Linked DNA regions of Homo sapiens: regions 1 and 3 are each linked to region 2. Evidence: fine-mapped expression QTL. A gene starts in region 2. Each other region holds a variant in brackets. All regions are shown on one strand. Distances are between the middles of the regions.

Region 1 (5,828 bases), 21 kb before region 2:
TCATTATGGCAGATCCACAGAAATTGTGCAATGATGTAAATGTTCATACTTCACAGAGCCTATAATTTTTATTTTTCAATTTGTTTTTTCAAAAATCTCTTCTCTTGGGGACAACATCTGAAGGGTCTGTTGCATGGATTTAAAAAAATCATCTCACATGCATTTTTTAGTTTGGGTGAAGAAAACATCATGGGGAGGTCCATCTTCAGTATCTTTAGTGCTTCCTACCTGGTAACTTGAGACTTTAAAAGAAGAAACAAAGAGAAGAAGATATGGGAGTGAATTTATTCCAAGAATCTACAATGACATTGAAGTTGTTGGAGGAATATACTGTATTTAAAAAACCTGTGTCACATTCAAAAATTTCATCTAAGCTGGGCGCAGTGGCTTGTTCCTGTAGTCCCAGCACTTCAGGAGGCTGAGGTGGGTGGATTGCTTGAGCCCAGGAGTTGGAGACCAGTCTGGGAAACATGGTGAGATGTCATCTCTCTACAAAATACAAAAAAATTAGCCGGGCATGGTGGCGCTTGCCTATAGTCTCAGCTACTCGGGAGGCTGAAATGAGAGGATCACTTGAGCCCGGGGAGGTCCAGGCCGCAGTGATCCGAGATCACACCACTGCACTCCAGCCTGGGTGACAGAGTGAGACCCTGTCTAAATTAAAAAAAAAAAAAAGGCAATGGCTTTGTGCTTTTGAAGGTGGAATGAAAGGTGGAATGAAGACACATCCACCTTAAGGCTTTAAAAGACCATGAAGCTGGGTGCAGTGGCTCACTCCTGTAATCCTAGGATTTGGGGAAGCCAAGGCAGGAGGATTGCTTGAGCCTAGGAGTTTGAGACCAGCCTGGGCAGCATAGCAAGACCCCATCTCTATAAAAGGAAAAAAATGTTAAAACACAGTGAAACTGCAGAAACAGAACATAGCCACCCTTTTTCATTAATGACCTTTTCTTCACGTGGTGGTCAACTCAGCAGGTGAGAATAATTAGTAGGTTCAGTAGAATAAAGTCTTTACAATTAATAACTTAGTGGAAAATGATGTTCAGATGATGAAATGTGGAAATGTTTTAGACAGCTGTATTTTCAGCCTGTGTGTCTCAGTCACCATCCTGTTGGGATTAACAGTTGAGGGCCATCATTTTCTAAACATTTCACATGCAGTTTCCCATAATTTTTACCGTGAATGTGAAAAGGTGAAACTGGTGCTGACTTCAGCGGCAGGTATACTAAAATTAGAATGACACAGAGGAGATTAGCATGGCCCCCTGTGCAAGGAAGATCCAGATTCATGCCGCATTCCATATTTTTTTTTAAAAAAGGTTACACTGTGCACCGAGATGTGCAGCTAGAAGGAAGAGCATGAAGTCTCGTGTTTGCTGACTATAAAAATAAATCATAGTAATAATATTGTTGAAAATTCTGCTTTAAAAATTATTAATAAAACCATAAATGAAACACTATTCTTGAGCACACTTTAAAAAGTACATAGACCCATAAGTCCATGTACTAAAAAATGCCTATTTTTAGGTTGCCTGTTTTGTAATCCAGGATTTCATACTGAGATGAAAATTAGCATCAGGAAAAGCCTGAAATGCCTTGCCTTAATTGTGAACAGATACTGGGGAACCTGCCCCGATATTCACGTAGGTTCTTTTCTGTTTTCCTTAAGCATCGGCCAGCTTGAGAAATAAAGGGACAGAGTACAAAAGAGAGAAATTTTAAAGCTGAGCGTCCGGGGGAGACATCACATGTCGGTAGGTTCCGTGATGCCCCACAAGCCACAAAAACCAGCAAGTTTTTATTAGGGATTTTCAAAAGGGGAGGGAGTGTGCGAATAGGTGTGGGTCACAGACATCAAGTACTTCAGAAGGTAATAGAATATCACAAGGCAAGTGGAGGCAGGGTGAGATCACAGGACCACAGGACCGAGGCGAAATTAAAATTGCTAATGAAGTTTCGGGCACCATTGTCATTGATAACATCTTATCAGGAGACAGGGTTTTTGAGATCAACCGGTCTGACCAAAATTTATTAGGCGGGAATTTCCTCTTCCTAATAAGCCTGGGAGCGCTATGGGAGACTGAGGTCTATTTCACCCCTGCAGTCTTGACCATAAGAGATGACCACGCCCAGGGGGGCCAGTTCAGAGACCCACCCCCAGGCGCACATTCTCTTTCTCAGGGATGTTCCTTGCTGAGAAAAATAATTCAGCGATATTTCTCCCATTTGCTTTTGAAAGAAGAGAAATATGGCTCTGTTCCGCCTGGCTCACCGGCAGTCAGAGTTTAAGGCTATCTCTCTTATTCCCTGAACAATTGCTGTTATCCTG[T/C]TCTTTTTTCAAGGTACCCAGATTTCATACTGCTCAAACACACATGCTGTACAATTTGTGCAGTTAATGCAATTATTACAGGGTCCTGAGGTGACATACATCTTCGTCAGCTGACAGGATTAAGAGATTAAAGACAGGCATAGGAAATCACAAGAGTATTGATTGGGGAAGTGATAAGTGTCCATGAAATCTTTACAATTTATGTTTAGAGATTGCAGTAAAGACAGGCATAAGAAATTACAAAAGTATTAATTTGGGGAACTAATAAACGTCCATGAAATCTTCACAATCCACGTTCTTCTGCCATGGCTTCAGCCGGTCCCTCCGTTTGGGGTCCCTGACTTCCCGCAACAAACAGATATGCATGAAAATGAAATATGCAAAGCACATTGATGACCTTGTTCTTTACGGACATTGTAATCAGCCTCTAGCCATACAGAACAAATGAGAAATTAGAAGCACTTCCAAGAACGTGTGATGGTGTGAAACCCACTTTTGACCATCATGCACATTTCAACATTTGAAGTGAGACAGGCTACCTGGTAACTGCCCCATGGCGGGGTCATAGTTTAAATGGCCCAATGTCCTGTAGAGGTTAATTTAATCAAAATGAGCTATAAACATAGAACAATCACTATGTATAATTTTAAAATAGTTTACCTGGCCCGTCATGGTGGCTCACGCCTGTGATCCCAGCACTTTGGGAGGCCGAGGTGGGCAGATCACCCACGGTTGGGAGTTCGAGACCAGCCTGGCCCGCATGGCGAAACCCCCATCTCTACTAAAACTACAAAAATTAGGCATGCTGGTGGGTGCCTGTGGCCCCAGCTGCTCAGGAGGCTGAGGCAGGAGAATCGCTTGGATTCGGGAGGCGGAGGCTGCAATGAGCCAGGATTGTGCCTCTGCACTCTAGCCTGGGTGACAGGGCAAGACTCCATCTCAAAAAATAAAAATAAAAATAGTTTATCTGGGTGGGCATTCCAAAATTTCCGCATAGATGATCACGTGAAACAATCACTGTGCTAAATGTGGAGGAAAATTCATCACGATAATCACAAAATTTGTATCAGAAAAAAATTACAAATGTACTTTGTTTCATGTAATTTTATGAGTTGGAAGTATTTTCTTAAATTGGAACACTATAAGATAATATCTTTAGGAAATGGATATGCCACAATAGGAAGTATAGTGGGGCAAGTCTTGTTTTTCTCAAGGGAAAAGCCACCAGCCTGCTTTCATAGGCATTGATAAAACCAGGAAGAAAATAAAGTCACAACCAAATAGTATACACTGTCTCTACTGAATTCTTCTAATTCCTTCCCAACAGAAGTCTAAATCCTGCTTAGCCTAAACATATCTATAGCCAGCGATGGGCAAATTATATTTGCTGTCAGCATGATAGAATAAGAATCAGAAACCCCCCAGCAGTGGGGTAAGATCGTGCACTTCATCCCCTCAAAATGCTGTCAACCCCATTCCCTCTCCATGCCCTCAAACAACTGCACAGTCACTTGTTAGTGAATTTCTCGTTCAGCGTTTTGTTTTTTTCTCTCCATACTTAAAGACCAAATCATTTGTTTGCTCTGAAGAAAAAGAAAAAACAAAACAAAACAAAAAACCACCCACCAAATCATTTGAAATCACTACCCGTTAAAAAAAATCACCAGTGGAACTAAACAGTTGAGTGGTTTGGGATGTGTTCGCCATTTCTGTGTTTGACCTACATGGCCTCTAGTTCTTTGGACCACTGTAACTGTGAAACCATGGCTTAATACTGTTAAAGACCCCAAGGCTCAACTCTGTAGCCAGGGTGTACCTCAGGCTGCACAAATATCACACCAGAATGTCACAATCATTCATTGCTCCAGCTACTGAGTGAACAGGGTGCAAGACAGCACTGGCTTGGGTTGTATTTTTGCAGCCAGTTAACTTTGCATCAGGTCTACACAGTCCTTGCAGCCTTTGATTTCTCCAGTTGTAGAGATTTGAAATGGGGTGCCCGGGTTCCTCTCGTTTTTCCTTCAACCTACCTAGCATGCATTTTACACACATTGGAGGAGTCTTATGCACTGTTTTTCTCTGTTGCTGATGGAGGCAAGAAGGCCTTCTAATTAGTCTAACTTAAACGGACGGGATTCACCTAACAAAAGCAAGAAGAAAAGCACAAGAACAGGTGTCTTAATGCATTTGGATAATTTATTTGGGGTGTGTGCGTGTGTGTGTGTGTCTTGGTGGAGGTGGGGGCCGTGTTCTCACCAAGCCTTTTCATAATCAAGTTTGCTTTGCAAACTTTATGGCCTTACACCCAGCAGAACAGTCCTTGCTAATAAAAGGAGGATGCCCTGTCACAGTTCTCTGTAAATTATCATGTGTTGGGAAGTTCTGTTGATGCTTAGTTTGATCTTCCATGGTGGACACATCTGTTCTGTATGTACAAGGCATTACATGTGTGTTTTAGCGGATGGGAATTGAAGCCTTTCCACAGTCCTTGTGCTCTGAGATGGCTGTTGAGCTCTGCTCAGCTGTCGTAGCTGAATTCTTTTTTTGTGCTGAACACTGGGCAGCCTCACCATGTTGTCAATGTGCTTCTGGGGCCCCTGTGACTGCTGCCAGATGCCATGCACACAAGCAGAGTGCCTTTGCAGGTTTGTGCACCCCTTGGCGAGCTGGAACTGGGAGCCCTGTGGGGTGATCTCGCCTTCTCATGGGGGGTCGGGGAGGGGAGTGCCTATTTTTAATCTTGTCTGTTTGTTGCACCATGGAAATCACTGTGATTTGTATATATGCCCTAGGAAATTTTTACTGCAGTCTAATTTATGTAATAATGTTGATTCCAGGTTTGTTTAATAAAGCTTTGTATCTTTTAAGAAAAAAAAAACTGTAGCATGTAGAGGAAAGTGCACTGGGATAATCCAAGGCCAGGCTTTGAGGTTCCACCGCTACATTATGTGACTCTTAGTCTAAACCTTTTGGTGTAATTTCTTTGGTCTGATTATTTATAAGTAGCAGATAATAAATGAATTTTATACTACAAACACAAGTGACAAGCTTTTGCCTCTTCTTCCTTTTTATTAAAGTAAAACATACATAGGTGTAACCTCTTAAATAATTTTTCTTGTCATAAATTACATATTTGTCATTTTATTGTAGTGTTTCCTTTGTTTTCTTTTGGGTTGCATATGGATTGTTAGTGATTTGTATTTCTCTCTTATAGTTATTTGGAAAATATATCTGCTTTAAATCATTGCCTTTCTTTTTTTTGAAACCAAGTCTCACTCTGTCACCCAGGCTGGAGTGCAGTAGCACAATCTCAGCTCACTGCAGCCTCCACCTCCTGGGTTCAAACAATTCAGTCTCAGCCACCTGAGTAGCTGGGATTACAGACGTGCACCACCACACCCAGCTAACTTTTGTATCTTTAGTAGAGACAGGGTTTCACCATGTTGTCCAGGCTGGTCTCCAACTCCTGACCTCAAGAGATCTGCCCGCCTCAGCCTCC
Region 2 (5,828 bases):
TAAAATCTCAAAAATTTTGCCGGTTAGGTTAAGAACAATAGGGCAAAAACTGTATATGTTAAGTTTCTTGGAAGGGATTCCTTCCTTTGAGGGAAAAGCCTGTTGATTCTTACGTTTTCTTCTCTACGAAATTAGGTTAAGGATCGGCTGAAAGCATAAAATGCAGCTTAGAAGTTGCCCGCTTCCCCTTCTTCCCCATCTACACCCATGCAACTGTGGGACCTCTGCCCTTGGCTAGGAGAGCTTTTGGCACTGTGTCTTGCTGCTGGCGCCCAGACTCAATTTTCCTGCATCCGGCTTACTGTGTTTTCCTCTTCTAGTTCCTAAGTGGCTCTCCAGAACCTTGACTGGGTTTGTCTCTGGTCTACACTTCTCCTATCCCTCTCCTTCCCAATTTACTAGGTGAAAGGCACCCGGTACCCGCTTTGTAATGCACCCCTACTGCTCCCGACAACACCTCTCCACTGTCATGCTTAATTGTCTACATTTCATTTGTCAGAGGTCCGACGTTCACTTTTTAAAATGCAATGAATCATTAACATGCTAATAAGTGATTTAATATCTATTAATGAGGATTCGCAATATAAAACTGATTTAATGTCTCAACTCACTGCTTCCGTTTTCTCATAAAAGGAAACAGCTAAGTACTACCTAGGAGAAATGATACCCACGTGCATGCATCTTGCTCTTTCCTTTAATGCTTCCTGGGGTTCTATCTTTTCTCTTAGCAATGCACTGATACATTTATGGTGAGGCACAAGTAAGAAAGAGAAGAAAAAAGGAATCACCTTAGGAATCCTTGAGATAACCATATTTGCTTTGTTTTCAACTCCACACACAGCCTATTTCCTGCCCTGGGTTATTTTCCTCAGAGGAGCTGTGGAGATGACTAGACTTACACATAGGTCCACAGCTCCCACAAAGTCTTCACCAGCAAACCCTCCGAGTTCCTCACTCCCACAGCTCCCACAAAGTCTTCACCAGCAAACCCTCCGAGTTCCTCACTCTCATTCCTCTAGCACAAGTTGTGCAATAGCCTCATTTTTACATCTTGCCCCTGAAGAAGGGGGAAGAATTACACCTTGACAGTGACTCAAAAAAGACAGCAGATGCTGACGGGGTTCTTTTGATTAACAGGAGTTATAGAACTATGTCTAAATAGTTCCGATTTGATTTGAACATTATATTTTATCAGCAAATAACATGTGTTTCATTGTAGAAGTAACTAAAACAAAGCATGAAAACATGTGGTTCTACAATATTGGTTTTTTTGTTTTTTGTTTTTTGTTTTTTTGAGACAGGAGTCTCACTCTGTCACCCAGGCTGGAGTGCAGTGGAGTGATCTTGGCTCATTGTAACCTCTGTCTCCTGGGTTCAAGGAATTCTCCTGCCGCAGCCTCCCGAGTAGCTGGGATTACAGGCGCCCACCACCATGCCCAGCTCATTTTTTGTATTTTTAATAGAGATAGGGTTTCACCATGTTGGCCAGGCTGGTCTCAAACTCCTGACCTCAAGGGATCCTCCCACCTCGGCCTCCCAAAGTGCTGGGATTACAGGTGTGAGCCACTGTTCCCAGCCTGGTTCCCCAATATTCTTTTGGCTTGTTTAATTCTGAGTAAGAGAGTCCAAAATAGGGTTCAGGACATTCTTTTCCCGAGATATCCCCGGAGTGAAAATGAGTGTTGGATGATCACTATTTTGGGTACTAATTGTTTGACCAGTATTGAACAGCTGAGCTCCAGGGGTAGAAAGAGATCTAAGGCTTGTCCAGTGAGGATTCCCAAAGTAGTGGGGAAGCAGATACAAAAATCAGTTAAGTTGTGATAGAGTAGTAGGTGTTGCAATAAAGGTATACCCACAGAACAGAGAGGGCCGAGGCTAGGGAAGCTTGAGCAGGATTCAGACTTTCATTAGGCACAGAGGCGAGAGAGCAGCTCATGGCAAGGGCCCAGAAGCTGCCCACTGTTGTGTCTGGAATCTAGTGGGAAAGGGCAAAAGGAAGTCCTGGAGCAGCAGGTTGCGAGCAGGCCATTGTGCCAAGGAGTCTGGTCTTGATCCTATAGGTAGAAGGTGGCTGGTAGAGTTTAATCAGCAGAAGAAAAAGAAATGAGAATGGGAATGTGAGTTAGGTGACAATTGGATGAAGATGGAAGCCTCATGTCAGGAAACCAATTCTGCAGTGGTCTCCTGGCAGAAGGTGAGGCAGACCTGAACTGAGCCTACCTCGGTTAGTGGCCAAGTCTGCTTTAAATTCATCCCTTCTGCCAGATGGTTTTAAAAATGCATGAGCCCATTACTGAAAAACAGAACGTCTTCGAAGAGAAAGGCAGACCGGGAAGCCCTGAGTGAGAAGTACCCAGTGAAAGGAAGGGCGTTTATCAATCCTCTCTCTTTGAACTAAATTCATTAGTGAAATCTGAGAAACTTTGGAGCTTTAATGAATTTGAAACTGGTGTTTCCCTTTATCTGCATCTAGTCCATTTTTAATTTGCGGTCATCTATTAGCTGATGAAAAAAGAAAAATGTCTTTCAGCAGTTGAAGACAGCTAATGAGAATCAGGCTCTCAGTGTGGGCGGTACTGCTGATGTTTGGTTTGTGAGAGATACAGGAATCAACTTGTTGAAGCTCTCTACTTGTCAGAGCACCTTTAAATAATCCAAGCCCAGAGTTGTTTCATCTTCAGGCAAGAGAAAGTGAAAATGGCTTCAAAGGTACAATATCTCAAATAAACACTATAAAATGCATCCACACTTGCCTTTGAAATTGTAGTGGTTCAAGCACACAGAGACAAGCAACAATGTTTATTTCCTGATACTAATGAGCTTGTCTGTCTTTGTCTATGATGATTGTTCTTAGAGACAAACAAATAAAAATGCGAATTATATCTGACTGTTCTAAGAAGAAAAGATTGCCAGACTATTGTATTTTTTGGCAGTTATATGCTTCAAAAAACTGATCGTTTTCTCAATTCCTAGGAAGCGGGCAGAGAAATCACATTCCTGTGGACCAATGCTCCTTAGTGGATGAGTTTTGTGGCATGGTGGTGATTTAGTTAGTAAGAAGCCCTGCCTGTTTTCTGGAGAGTACTATACTTGTCGAACCAGCTCCTAGGACAGTACAGGGTTGTGACTGGTGTTTTGGGGTTCTCTCTGCGCATAAGCCCTTTCCTTTTAATACAAACAGCAAGATCATCCTGTTCAGCAGTTGACAGATGACTGTGTGCACCAAAAGGCAACAACGATGAGGCAACTGATGCATTTGTAACTCAATGTCTCACTGAATTCCAGCTTTCTTTTCTCAAGGTGGTGAAACAGGAAGCAACATCCCATCAGGAAGAACCTGAGGGTGCCATCCAGTAGCTTCGCCTCACGTCACTGACTGCCCTCAGTCAGAAATCTTGACTCGCAACTTTGGAGGGTGGGTCTCTGAAGGAATTTCAGGTCTTACACAGAGATGAGTTGTGCTGCTCTCTGAGGAGAACGAAGCTGGTTGGAACGTTGGAAGCTGCTCTCTGACTACACTTCACAAGCAAGGGGCACCTTTTGTGGACTGACATTTCAGAAAGGTAGGCGCCATCCCATGGATGTGGTTAGTATTTGAGGACTTTCAAAACCAAGGTGGCCGTGATTCCGCGTGTGAGCTTGTGTGTGTATGTGTGCCTGGGTGCGTAACAGAGAGGGAGAGGAGATGGAGATTGGGGGAGAGGCGGACAAATGAAGAAATGTTCATTTTTGGTCTGATGTTTGGGAGAAATACAGAAAAGACAGACTTGGGGCCCTTTGCTTTGTAGAGTTTTGCTTGGAAGTGTTTAGTAGTAGAGGGTAAATTTCGAGTCCAAACTTCCACTCCTGACCTGCATTGCTCTCGGGCGAGTTTAAACTGATTCATTGAGGGTTAGGAAGAAAGGTCTGGGCAGTGAAATCACACACGGCTGAATGCTCAGCATAGCTTGGTTTATCAGGAAAGCCCTGAATCCAGGTGGAATGAAAGGGGTCAGCACAGATCTTTGCCAGGTGGCAAAGGCCATTTCAGACCATCCCAGAGTGCCTTAAGCTGAGAACAAGGTGGGACTTGCTCACCCCACAGTGGCAGGCCTTCCTAAGCTGCTTCTGTCTTGAGAGATGTAGTGCTCAATGTCATGCCAGGAGAAATTAGCTGTTCGGTTCTAAGGCTGCCAGTCTCATGCAGAAAAGTGAAACAAAATCAAACTACTTTTTCTGATCCAAGCAAATGTTTAGCAAGAATGTTCTGTTAAGCATTTTTATTTTTTTGAAACCTTTACACAAAACAAGGGAAATAAAGCTTTAGGGCTGACCAGATAATGAATTTTAATTTATTCATTAACCCACAATGTTCAAGTGCCTTCTCTACCTTAAGTGAGTGTTTGACTTTAAACTTCACATTTTCATTGCCTTCCCCCCTACAAGCCTTTTGTTTTTCTTAAAAGGGGTTTCCATTTATAATTTCTTCAGTAGAATTTCTGGATAAAAAGTTCTTTAAAGAGAAAATATGTATATGTTCAAAAAGGTAATAATTATGTGGCCCTCTCATTCACAATATTTCTGCCTTTTTCTAAAATATCAATCAAATTGATTTACATAAGTTTGAAGATCATTCTGGGCTAATAATAATCTACATTTACTAAGTCCTTGCTGTGTGTACGTGCATTTTCCCCTTTAGGGCTCATGATACGCCACTTTCAGACGAGGAATTGAGGCTTAGTGAGATTTACAGTGGTACAGTAGGGATGTGAGAAAGCCACAGCTTTATTGCATTTCTGCACACTAAGATATATGATTTCAGCTCATTCTATATTCCCATTCTATTCCATTAACCCCCTACAGGGTCCTTGTGTGGAGGGATTCCTGAAGCTATGATAATATTCAAATACTCGAATTTGGTGTCTTATAACAAAAGGCCAAAATCAATCAATCAATCTATCACCTGCTTCTGCTGTTGGAGGAAGGCTTGGTGTGGTGGACAGAACATTGACTAGAAAGACAGATCAAAATTCAAATTCCTGCATCCTGCTTACTAACTATGACCCTGGCAAGTCACTGAAATTCCTTTTTTATTTTTTTGAGATGGAGTCTTGCTCTGTCACTGAGGCTGCAGTGCAGTGGCATGATCTTGGCTCTCTGAAACCTCTGCCTCCTGGGTTCAAGCGATTCTCGTGCCTCAGCCTCCCAAGTAGCTGGGAGTATAGGCATGTGACACCACACCTAGCTAATTTTTTTGTAGTTTTAGTAGAGATGGGGGTTTCGCCATGTTGGTCAGTCTAGTCTCGATCTCCTGGCCTCAAGTGATCTGCCCACCTCAGCCTCCCAATGTACTAGGATTCCAGGCATAACCCACCACACCTGGCCTCAGTGCAATTCTTCAAATCTCAGTTTCCTTATTTATAAAATAATTATTATAACATCCATCAAACGAGGTTGTTTATTATAAGACATAAAAAGGCAGGGTATGTCAAATGCCTTCCATAGGACCTGACAGAGGGTAGGCCCTTGGTAAACAGTATTCATTTCCCCATTTTGCAGTGATTTCTTCATGCTCTTGACATGTTGGATCCTGTTCTAGGATTGGGGGTATCACCAGTGAACAAAGCAGACAAGTCCCTGCCCTCAGGGAGTTGCCTTTCCACTGGTACTTGTTCCTTATATCCTAGTGTACTTTCTTGGGAAATCACTTTGTGATTATCTTTCTTTGTGGAGCTGATCCAGCTTTCAAACAGCCTCTTAAAGTAATGAATGTCCTATGCCAAAAGTCCCCCAAAGCATAGTAAAATCAAGCAAAAAGCAAGAACATCAGATACTTCTTTTTCAAA
Region 3 (5,828 bases), 29 kb before region 2:
TTCCTTTTCAGGATTTTTGCTTTGTTTTCAAAGTACACTTCTCTGATATTTATTTTAAATTTACTTCACATACTGTTTTTTTGCAATGGAATCTCACTATGTTGCCCAGACTAGTCTCAAACTCCTGGGCTCAAAGGATCCTCCTGCCTCAGCCTCCCAAGTAGCTGAGATTACAGGCACACACCACTGTCCCAGCAGTTCTCTGATATTTAGAAGCATTGAGATATGGAATGTGATCTGCCTGTGATTTTCTTTCCAGTGAGAATGGCTCAGGTGTTTGCTGTTTGGTAGAGCCTACCCAATCATTGAAGGCAGTAGAGTTGAAGCATGGTTTTACCTGAAAAATGTGCAATGGCACTATCCTGGCTCACCACAACCTCCACCTCCTGGGTTCAAGCAATTCTCCTGCCTCTGCCTACCAAGCAGCTGGTATTACAGGCATGCACCACCACACCCAGCTAATTTTGTATTTTTAGTAGAGACAGGGTTTCTTAGTGTTGGTCAGGCTGGTCTCTAACTCCTGACCTCAGGTGATCTGCCCACCTAGGCCTCCCAAAGTGCTGGGATTACAGGCATGAGCCACTGTGCCTGGCCATCTGAAAAGCACTTTCTATGCTTATATTGGCAGCACATATACTAAAATTGGAATGATACAGAGAAGATTAGCATGGCCCCTGCTCAAGGATGACATGTAAATTTATGAAGCATTTCATATTTTGTAACTTTAAAAAAAAAAAAAGGCACTTTCTAGGGGTGGCAATCAGAATGTCTGTGTGTTTTTTAAGTGCCTCAAGCCTCCTGTCAGACTCATTTCTCCCTTTGAGGCCTGTGAAGTAAGCACCCCAGAAGCACACTTATAATTGCTGATGACATCTTTTTAAGCTATTCAATAAATTATGAGGAAGTGCAGGTTTCCCCACAGCTAAACTTCTTTTATTTGCTAAGGACCATATATTGTCCATCTCCAAATCAACAGATATTTGTTTTTCTGCAAAACACAAAAGACTACTTGTGTAAAACAGAATTGGATTTTTAACTGTCAGTTTTCCTGAAAATTATCTTTTAATTTTTTTTCTGATTGTGCTATTTTTCTCCACAATAAAGAGAAAGGGTTCCCCTGACTCACTGGACTATTGACAAGTACATCATTTTTGTATCGCATAGCATTTTTTTTTTTTTTGAGATGGCATCTCATTCTGTTGCCCAGACTGGAGTGCAGTGGTGCAATCTTGGCTCACTGCAATCTCCACCTCCTGGGTTCAAGTAATTCTCCTGCCTCAGCCTCCCAAGTAGCTAGGATTACAAGCGTGCACCACCATGTCCGGGTATTTTTTTTTTTTGTATTTTTAGTAGAAATGGGGTTTCACTGTGTTGGCCAGGCTGGTCTCAAACCCCTGACCTCAATTGATCCACCCCCCTTGGCCTCCCAAAGTGCTGGCATTACAGGCGTGAGCCACCACGCGTGGCTCACATAGCATTCTTTGCTTGAATATAGCATATGCCCTCTTGATTGTGTGTCATTTTTAATATGTACAATAAACAATTTGACGATTACATGGAAGGGAAAATGGGTGACGAAAATAAAATTAATTGGCAACAGCCTTTCCACCATACAAGTGAGTTTTATTACAAATTGGTAATAGAATCAGGGTAACATTTGGGGGTGATCACAAATAGCTGAGTCTTGGAAAGGGCTGTATGGACAGAAGGCATGTCAGCGCAGCTTCACCTGGGGATTTGGAAACAGGGCTCAACAGCTCTCTACACTTCCTGGATTGGTAAGAACAGAGAAGAAGCCACCAGGATTTCATCAGAGGCTTTTTTTTTAAACAGCATAGTAAGAAGTAAATAAATAGTACTGCTTATTTTGTTACTCAATAGTCTGCTGTGGAGGATGGCCAAGGCCTGCCTCTAGTGAAGATGTGTCATTCCAGTTGTTATAGGCCAATGGTGACATACCCAATGTGGGAGGCTGGATTCACAAACACAGCAGCATGCCATTTGGAATAGTGATATGTAGAACAGACGATGCTGGGATGCTTAGGCAGTCCAAATTGTCCACCTTCACTGTGCTACTTGAGTTGTGAATCAGCTGGTAAAAAACAAACAAAAACACCGTAGAGCACGCTGGCGGCTACCAAGCTGGAGGAGGCGGCGGGCGCGAGACTGGGAATGCGCAGGGCCCCCTCCCTGCCCCCACAGCCTGGGCCACGGGCCCCATCTTCCCCGCTGCTGCGCGGCACTCAGTGCCCACCCCCCGACGAGGCCGGCAGCTGCTCCCACCCGGGGGCGTTGTCAGCTGCGCCGGGCCGCGCGCTGGGAGGCGAGGGCACGCATGGGGAGCCTCCGTTGATGCCACCACCACGCCGCCCTCCGAGGCTGCGTCCCGGGAAGCCCGGCTACCCGAGCGCTCCGGCCTGGCCCGGTGCCCCGGACCTGAGTGTGTCCGCATGGAGGAGCCCCGACTGGCCCAGGCGGCCGTGGCGGAGAGCGACCCCCGAGAGGTGTGGGAGGAGACCCCCGGCTGGGCACCCGCATTCTGCCCCAGCCCCAAGGCCTGGTCGCC[G/A]GAGCCGCCTGCCCACCGCCTGCAGGACTTCGACACACTGGCCACCGTGGGCACTGGGACGTTCGGGCGGGTGCACCCGGTGAAGGAGAAGACCGCCAAGCATTTCTTCGCCCTCAAGTTGATGAGCATTCCTGATGTCATCCGCCTGGCAGGAGCAGCACGTGCACATTGAGAGGTGTGTCCGGAAGGAATCATCCGCCCGTCCCTCATCTGCGTCCGGAAGGAATCCCTTCCTCATCTGCGTCCGGAAGGAAGTCATCCGCCCGTCGCTCATCTGCGTCCGGAAGGAAGTCATCCGCCCGTCCCTCATCTGCGTCCGGAAGGAAGTCATCCGCCCGTCCCTCATCTGCGTCCGGAAGGAAGTCATCCGCCCGTCGCTCATCTGCGTCCGGAAGGAAGTCATCCGCCCGTCCCTCATCTGCGTCCGGAAGGAAGTCATCCGCCCGTCCCTCATCTGCGTCCCGAAGGAATCATCCGCCCGTCCCTCATCTGCGTCCGGAAGGAAGTCATCCGCCCGTCCCTCATCTGTGTCCGGAAGGAAGTCATCAGCCCGTCCCTCATCTGCGTCCGGAAGGAAGTCATCCGCCCGTCCCTCATCTGCGTCCGGAAGGAAGTCATCCGCCCGTCCCTCATCTGCGTCTGGAAGGAAGTCATCTGCTCGTTCCTCATCTGCGTCCGGAAGGAAGTCATCTGCTCGTTCCTCATCTGCGTCCGGAAGGAAGTCATCCGCCCATCCCTCATCTGCGTCTGGAAGGAAGTCATCCACCCGTCGCTCATCTGCGTCCGGAAGGAAGTCATCCGCCCGTCCCTCATCTGCGTCCGGAAGGAATCATCCGCCCGTCCCTCATCTGCGTCTGGAAGGAAGTCATCCGCCCGTCCCTCATCTGCGTCCTGAAGGAAGTCATCCGCCCTTTCCTCATCTGCGTCTGGAAGGAAGTCATCCGCCCGTTCCTCATCTGCGTCCTGAAGGAATCATCCACCCGTTCCTCATCGGCGTCCCGAAGGAAGTCATCCGCCCGTCCCTCATCTGCGTCCGGAAGGAATCATCCGCCCGTCCCTCATCTGCGTCTGGAAGGAAGTCATCCGCCCGTCCCTCATCTGCGTCTGGAAGGAAGTCATCCGCCCGTCCCTCATCTGCGTCCTGAAGGAATCATCCGCCCGTCCCTCATCTGCGTCTGGAAGGAAGTCATCCGCCCGTCCCTCATCTGCGTCTGGAAGGAAGTCATCCGCCCGTCCCTCATCTGCGTCTGGAAGGAAGTCATCCACCCGTCCCTCATCTGCGTCCTGAAGGAATCATCCACCCGTTCCTCATCGGCGTCCCGAAGGAAGTCATCCGCCCGTTCCTCATCTGCGTCCTGAAGGAATCATCCACCCGTTCCTCATCGGCGTCCCGAAGGAAGTCATCCACCCGTTCCTCATCTGCGTCTGGAAGGAAGTCATCCACCCGTCCCTCATCTGCGTCCTGAAGGAATCATCCGCCCGTCCCTCATCTGCGTCTGGAAGGAAGTCATCCGCCCGTCCCTCATCTGCGTCTGGAAGGAAGTCATCCGCCCGTCCCTCATCTGCGTCCTGAAGGAATCATCCGCCCGTCCCTCATCTGCGTCTGGAAGGAAGTCATCCGCCCGTCCCTCATCTGCGTCTGGAAGGAAGTCATCCGCCCGTCCCTCATCTGCGTCTGGAAGGAAGTCATCCACCCGTCCCTCATCTGCGTCCTGAAGGAATCATCCACCCGTTCCTCATCGGCGTCCCGAAGGAAGTCATCCGCCCGTTCCTCATCTGCGTCCTGAAGGAATCATCCACCCGTTCCTCATCGGCGTCCCGAAGGAAGTCATTCGCCCGTTCCTCATCTGCGTCCTGAAGGAATCATCCACCCGTTCCTCATCGGCGTCCCGAAGGAAGTCATCCGCCCGTTCCTCATCTGCGTCTGGAAGGAAGTCATCCACCCGTCCCTCATCTGCGTCCTGAAGGAATCATCCGCCCGTCCCTCATCTGCGTCTGGAAGGAAGTCATCCACCCGTCCCTCATCTGCGTCTGGAAGGAAGTCATCCGCCCGTCCCTCATCTGCGTCCGGAAGGAAGTCATCCACCCGTCCCTCATCTGCGTCCGGAAGGAGGTCATCCGCCCGTTCCTCATCTGCGTCTGGAAGGAATCATCCACCCGTCCCTCATCTGCGTCCGAAGGAAGTCATCCGCCCGTCCCTCATCTGCGTCCGGAAGGAGGTCATCCGCCCGTTCCTCATCTGCGTCCTGAAGGAGGTCATCCGCCCGTTCCTCATCTGCGTCTGGAAGGAAATCATCCGCCCGTTCCTCATCTGCGTCCGAAGGAAGTCATCCACCCGTCCCTCATCTGCGTCCGGAAGGAAGTCATCCGCCCGTCCCTCATCTGCGTCCTGAAGGAAGTCATCCGCCCGTTCCTCATCTGCGTCTGGAAGGAAGTCATCCGCCCGTCCCTCATCTGCGTCCTGAAGGAATCATCCACCCGTCCCTCATCTGCGTCCGGAAGGAATCATCCACCCCTCCCTCATCTGCGTCCGGAAGGAGGTCATCCGCCCGTTCCTCATCTGCGTCCAGAAGGAATCATCCACCCGTCCCTCATCTGCGTCCAGAAGGAAGTCATCCACCCGTCCCTCATCTGCGTCCGGAAGGAAGTCATCCACCCGTCCCTCATCTGCGTCCTGAAGGAAGTCATCCGCCCGTTCCTCATCTGCGTCTGGAAGGAAGTCATCCGCCCGTCCCTCATCTGCGTCCGGAAGGAATCATCCGCCCGTCCCTCATCTGCGTCTGGAACGAAGTCATCCGCCCGTCCCTCATCTGCGTCCTGAAGGAATCATCCACCCCTCCCTCATCTGCGTCTGGAAGGAAGTCATCCGCCCGTCCCTCATCTGCGTCCTGAAGGAATCATCCACCCGTTCCTCATCGGCGTCCCGAAGGAAGTCATCCGCCCGTCCCTCATCTGCGTCTGGAAGGAAGTCATCCGCCCGTCCCTCATCGGCATCCTGAAGGAATCATCCACCCGTTCCTCATCGGCGTCCCGAAGGAAGTCATCCGCCCGTCCCTCATCTGCGTCTGGAAGGAAGTCATCCGCCCGTCCCTCATCTGCGTCCGGAAGGAAGTCATCCGCCCGTCCCTCATCTGCGTCCTGAAGGAAGTCATCCGCCCGTCCCTCATCTGCGTCTGGAAGGAATCATCCACCCGTCCCTCATCTGCGTCTGGAAGGAAGTCATCCACCCGTCCCTCATCTGCGTCCTGAAGGAATCATCCAC

The links. PIP is the estimated chance that this variant, and not a neighbour inherited with it, causes the effect.
Region 1: its variant is the best candidate, but not a certain one, in a credible set for the expression of CERS3 in whole blood (TOPMed, PIP 0.72).
Region 3: its variant is the best candidate, but not a certain one, in a credible set for the expression of CERS3 in whole blood (TOPMed, PIP 0.55).

What each region holds. Positions count from the first base shown.
Region 1 is chr15:100,547,300-100,553,127 of GRCh38, reverse strand. It overlaps the pseudogene PRKXP1 and the pseudogene RNU6-322P. Among named protein-coding and RNA genes, the nearest start is that of CERS3, 21 kb to the right of the region's middle. The variant T/C (reference allele first, on the strand shown) is at 2,330.
Region 2 is chr15:100,526,551-100,532,378 of GRCh38, reverse strand. CERS3 (ceramide synthase 3) reads left to right here and starts at 3,429. Exons shown (of 12, transcript NM_001378789.1): 1 at 3,429-3,566.
Region 3 is chr15:100,555,577-100,561,404 of GRCh38, reverse strand. LOC102723335 (a long non-coding RNA gene) reads right to left here and starts at 2,739. Exons shown (of 3, transcript NR_135693.1): 1 at 2,583-2,739; 2 at 1,960-2,092; 3 at 1,606-1,770. It also overlaps the pseudogene PRKXP1 and the pseudogene RNU6-181P. The variant G/A (reference allele first, on the strand shown) is at 2,567.